Linked DNA regions of Homo sapiens: region 1 is linked to region 2. The links come from fine-mapping of genetic effects on gene expression. A gene starts in region 2. The other region holds a variant in brackets. All regions are shown on one strand. Distances are from middle to middle.

Region 1 (2,919 bases), 700 kb before region 2:
TACGTATTAGGTGAGCCTCCTACAGACAGCAGAATCTTAATTGGTAAATTCTTCTCCATTCTGTATCTTTTAAGTGGAGCATTTAGGCCATTTACATTCAACTTTAGTATTCAGATGTGAGGTACTTTTCTTTTCATTATGGTATTTGTTGCCTGAATATCTTGGGTGTTTTTCATTGTGTTATTGTTATATAGGTCCTGTGAGATTTATGCTTTAAGGAGGTTCTATTTTGGTGTATTTCAAGGATTTGTTACAAGATTTAGAGATCCTTTCAGCACTTCTAGTAGTGCTGGCTTGGTAGTGCTGAATTCTCTCAGCATTTGTTCATCTGGAAAATACTGTATCTTTCCTTTATTTATGAAGATTAGTTTCACCAGATACAAAATTCATGGCTGATAATTGTTTTGTTTAAGGAGACTAAAATTGGGAACCCCCCCAATTCCTTCTAGCTTGTAGGGTTTCTGCTGAGAAATCTGCTGTTAATCTGATAAGTTTTCCTTTATAGCTTATCTGATACTTTTGCCTTACAGCACTTAAGATTCTTTCCTTTGTCTTCACTAAACGTAACCTGATAGCTATGTGCCTAAGTGATGATCTTTTTGCAATGAATTTCCCAAGTGTTCTTTGAGTTTCATGTTTTTGGATGTCTAGATCTCTAGCAAGATCAGGGATGTTTTCCTCATTTATTCCCTGAAATATATTTTCCAAACTTTTAGACGTCTGTTTTTCCTTAGGAACCCAAATTATTCTTAGGTTTGGATGTTTAACATAGTCTCAAACATCTTGGAGGCTTTGTTCATTAAAACTTTTTTTTCTTTGTCTTTGATGGATCGGGTTAATCAAAAGCCTTGTCTTTGAGTTCTGAAGTTCTTCTGCTTGTTCAAGTCTATGGCTTAGACTTTCCAGTACATTTTGCATTTCTCAATGTGTGGCCTTGATTTCCAGAAGTTTTGATTGTTTTTTACTTATGCTGTTTTGCTGAAGATTTTTTTTTCATATCATGTATCGTGCTTTTGATTTCCTTAAGTTGGACTTCACTTTTCTCTTCTGCCTCCTTGATTAGCTTAATAATCAACCTTCTGAATTATTTTTCTGGCAATTTATAGATATTTTTCTTGGTTTGGATCCATTGCTGGTGAGTGGGTATGATCTTTTGGGGGTGTTAAAGAACCTTGTTTTGTCATATTTGTCAAATTCAGCCCTGATATTTCAACTTGGGTCCTTTTCTATTTTCCCTAAGTGTCGGCCGGTCTGAGAAATAAAGAGAAAGAGTACAAAAGAGAGAAATTTTAAAGCTGGGTGTCCAGGGGAGACATCACATGTTGGCAGGTTCCATGATGTCCCCTGAGCCATAAAACCAGCAAGGTTTTGTTAGCAATTTTCAAAGGGGAGGGAGTGTATGAATAGGGTATGGGTCACAGAGATCACATGCTTTAAGGGCAACAAAAGATCGCAAGGCAGAAGGTCAGGGTGAGATCACAACATCAGGGCAAAACTAGAATCACTAATGGACTTCCAGGTCCAGCTGTGCA[T/C]GCATTGTCATGATAAACATCTTAACAGGTTTCAAGAGCAGAGAACTGGTCTGACTAGAATTTGCCAGGCTGGAATTTCCTAATCCTACCAAGCCTGGGGGTGCTGCAGGAGACTAGGGTGTGTTTCATCCCTATCTACATCTGCATAAGGCAGACAGTCCCAGGGTGGCCATTTTAGAGGCCCCCCTGGGAATGCATTCTTTTCCCAGGGCTGTTAAATATTAATATTCCTTACTGGGGAAAGAATTCAGCCATATTTATCTAACCCGTTTTTGGAAATAAGAGAAATATGGCTCTGTCCTGCCCGGCCCACAGGCAGCCAGACTTTAAGGTTATCTCCCTTGTTCCCTGAAAATCACTGTTACCCTGTTCTTAAGGTGCCCAGTTTCATATTGTTCAAACACACATGATTTATGAACAATTTCTGCAGTTAACACAATCATTACAGGGTCCTGAGGTGACATATATCCTCAGCTTATGAAGATGATGGGATTAAGAGATTAAAGTAAAGACAGGCATAGGAAATTATAAGAGTATTGATTGGGGAAATGATAAACGCCCATGAAATCTTCACAATTCATTTCATTCTGCCATGGTTTCAGCCAGTCCCTCCGTTCGGGGTCCCTGACTTTCCACAACACCTTCTCATTTGAGTAGACTATGCCAGAGGGAAAATCTGGGACTCAAGGGCTGCAGATTTTTTCTTTGTCCCACAGGGTACCCCATTAATGTGGTGTTCTCCCCTTTCCCCTATGGACAGGGCTTCCTGAGAGCTGAACTGCAGTGGTTGTTTTTGCTCTTCTGGGTCTGTCCACCCAGTGGAGCTCCTGGAATCCAGGCTGGTACTGGGGAGTTTCTGCAAAGCATTCTTTAATGTGATCTGTCTTCAGGTCTTTCATCCATGGATACCAGCACCTGTTCCAGTGGAGGTAGCAGGGGAGTGAAGTGGACTCTGTGAGGGTCCTTGCTTGTATTTTTGTTTAGTGCACTGGTTTTATGTTGTTTGGCTTCTGGCCAGGAGGTGGGGCTTTCAAGGGAGCATCAGCTGCGGTAGTATGGGGAAGATACAAGCTTGCCCTAGGGTCAGCTGGACACATATTCTGGTTTCTCAGGCAGTGGGCAAGGCCATAGACCTTTCAAGAGATTATGTGCTCTGTCTTCAGCTACTGGGGTGGGTAGAGAAAGACTATCAGGTTGGTGTGGGGTTAGGTGTGTCTGAGCTCAGGTTCTCCTTGGGCGGGGCTTGCTCCAGGAGCTGTGGGGGATGACAGCGTGGTTCTTAGGCCATTGGTATTATGTCCCCAGAGAGATAATGACTGTCTCTGCTCTGTCAAACAGGTCAACAGGGAAGACCGTGCCACTACCCTTGACAACTTCTGATAACTAT
Region 2 (2,876 bases):
ATTCTTCAGAGGTTATATGAAATTAAAGATGATGGGCTTCAGGCTGGAGAACATTTTCTCTCACAAAGCCATTCATTTTTTTAACATCTGGCCCTCATCCCCAATAGGACAGTGGGTGGGACTACCCAGATACCCTTCTAAGAGATATACTGAGGTTTGAATTCTACATTCCTAAAACTGAATGGAGCTTTTTGCTGCTATTTCACATGTACCTCCTCCCCCACTTTCCTTTAAACTGGAACACTGATTCTCCTTTGAAAAAGGAGTATTTTCCTTTGAATAGGTGATGGGCAAATTCTCAATTTGTTCAGATGCCTTGGTAGGTTTAAAAAAAAGTAAACAAACAAAAAAACCCATAATTTAGAAAAAACAACAACAACAAAAAGACGCAAAAGACCTGAAGCCTGAGACTTTACCTCACTCTTCTTGGTATGTTGCCTTAGCATTTCATTTGTAACAAGGATGTCAAAAGGGAAAAGGAGGTCAGTGGCTTGAATGACCTGAGGTGGGGGTAGGTTCCTGTTGCTTAAGGAAAGAGCAAAGGGGACGAACTTCACTGAGGCGCTAAAAACACTTTGATGGAAGCTGGATTTTCGAAGAGCCAAAATATTAAACTACAGACAAAATTCAAAGAGTGGGCTGGGTACAAGTAGTGAAAAGGTTAGTCGCCAGGCAGGGAAACACCCGACGGTGGAGGGAGGGGAGGAAAAGTTTTAAATACCCACCACAGCCTAGTGAGCCTTTAATTAGCGTCCCCCACTTCTGACTTTGCTCTTGCCCCCGGAGGAGCTAGCTGCAGGGAAGCAAGCAGCCCTATTTTTAAGCACTTAAACCTCTCCGTTGGACTTCAGAAGGCTTGAGTTACCGGTGTTGCAAATAACGTTTCTTCCTAAACATGAGAAAGCAAATTTGAATTCCCTAGTCAACGCCAAAAGGAAGATAAAGGGACCCCCCCCCCAAAAAAAAGGTAATTTCAGCGTGAAAGAGCGGTGATGGGCGCGGGGGAGGGGAGGAAGGACTTACCGCAGCCTCTGCAGGCTGCCCCCAAAGACTCAGGGCCAGTAAGAACAAGCCGGCAGCCAGGCTGACTCCACGCAGTTTCATTCTTCTCCGGCTCCCGCAGCTCCTTCAGCACCCGCACGAAATTCCCGGCTGGCTCTAACCAATTGACATAATCTTGAGGGTTTATATGGAGAGAGCTAGAGCCGGAGAGGGACAGTGAGGCTTGGGTGAAGAGAAAGAAGCTTTTTAAGAGTGGAAGAAAAAAAAAAGAAGAAGAAGAAGGAGCTACTCTTCCTTCCCCCCTCCCCTCCCCAAAGCCGGTCTCTCAGGAGAACTTTTCCCTTCTGTCCAGACTTGCAAACTTTTTCTTCACTCAATTCCTACAGATCTACTTTCCTCCCTCTCTTCCCCGTGCAAGGCCCCCCTCCTCACCAGCACAAGGGAATTTGAGTATCACTCCGCCACAGTTTTAGACTGCACCGGCAACCTGCGAGGGAGTGACGCTCAGTTATTTGGGGGAGGGAAACTTCCAGACTAGTTGACTGAGCACCATGAGTCCAACCGGGAAGCTTTTCTATTCGTTCATTTGCACCTTCCGTTGATACTACTTTTCTAGGCTCAGTTCCAATCTCATTGGTGTGCGTACCAAAGCCAATTACAAATAGATCTAAACTGGGACTATTTTTTTAGCGGATGGATCTCAGAGGGGCCGTGCTTTTTATTGTTACTCATTAGAAACAAATTTTGGTCGGTGCTCCCTGGGCTGCTGGTCTTCTTTACCTTCCAGCTGCTCACAGAACAGAGAGTTTCTACATACAAGCAGAAGATGTGAAAATATTGGGAATAAATAAAGTATATGCTTATAAACAAGTAAGAAAATAAGTATATGTGCGTGAATACTTTATGTGTGTTATATACGTATAAGATCTGGGAGCATTCAGCAGGTATTGGTAATTATTCTATGGTATTATGTTATTATAATACAGCTATATCTCTGTTTAGCTGCATTGAATCCTATAATTAATGCCTCCTATATTGAGCTAATGTAAAAGGTATTGACTCTCATTGTAGTTGTGTTTCAGAAAGATTTAGGGCAGGGAATTAAATAAATTTAGTGCAGTGTTTCTTAGAATTAATATAAACACTTAATTGGAAATATTTAAATAGAGTTGATGGCAGCTGAATCGATATCTCCCATATAAAGACTTGAATGTTCCTTTGATAATTCTGATATATAGATTTTTTTTAAAGTAACAAAAGAACTAGAAAATACTTTCTGCGGACTCCTTGGAGAATCTTCAAGAATTTGATGAAGAATTCTTCACAACATTTCTATCTTCCTAGAATTAACCACTTTAGAGTCTTTCAAGGTTTTGGATCTATTTCACGAGGGCCCACTCATCCTTAGGTTCTGCTTAGCTCAGAGTGGATTTACAACTCCAGAAACTGTCTCCCCTTCCCAATAGCCTAGTGTACTATCAATTTGAATCAGTGTTGTATGCATTTGGGCATGTGTGCAAGGGCACTTTCGGGCCCATCTGTCTTATGTGGGAATAGTATGCCTATGTCTCTTTATGTGTAACCTAACAGTAAAGTTGAAAGTATATGATGCACAGTTGCTTAGGTCTTAGCGTATAGGTCTCTAAGGGGCTGTGTGTGAAGCTGTGGAGATACTTAGGGCTGTTGTGTGGAAAGGTGCCTGAAAGTGAGAAAGACTACCGGCTGCCCAAGGTAGGGGGGATGATTGACAGCAGACAGCCCCGCCCCTTTCCCCTCCATTCTTTCCTCTCCTGCTGCATGGAACTATCTCCTGAGTGCTGCAAGTTGTAACGGGCACCGCTGAGCCTGTTTCCCTTTGGAGCACTTCTTATCTA

Direction of the effects. Positions count from the first base shown, and alleles are read on the strand shown. Sizes are in standard deviations (SD) of each study's normalised expression.
In carriers of allele T in region 1, the expression in unexposed skin of the gene that starts at base 1,392 in region 2 tends to be lower than with C alone (small effect, 0.12 SD a copy in GTEx).

What was found. PIP is the estimated chance that this variant, and not a neighbour inherited with it, causes the effect.
Region 1: its variant is the best candidate, but not a certain one, in a credible set for the expression of COL4A5 in unexposed skin (GTEx, PIP 0.55).

What each region holds. Positions count from the first base shown.
Region 1 is chrX:109,143,001-109,145,919 of GRCh38, reverse strand. No RefSeq gene overlaps it. Among named protein-coding and RNA genes, the nearest start is that of GUCY2F, 340 kb to the left of the region's middle. RefSeq lists an enhancer at 1,259-1,809. The variant T/C (reference allele first, on the strand shown) is at 1,533.
Region 2 is chrX:108,438,354-108,441,229 of GRCh38, reverse strand. It overlaps COL4A5 (collagen type IV alpha 5 chain), which reads right to left and starts at 1,392. Exons shown (of 53, transcript NM_033380.3): 1 at 1,024-1,392. The coding sequence starts at 1,104. It overlaps COL4A6 (collagen type IV alpha 6 chain), which reads left to right and starts at 2,808. Exons shown (of 45, transcript NM_033641.4): 1 at 2,808-2,876.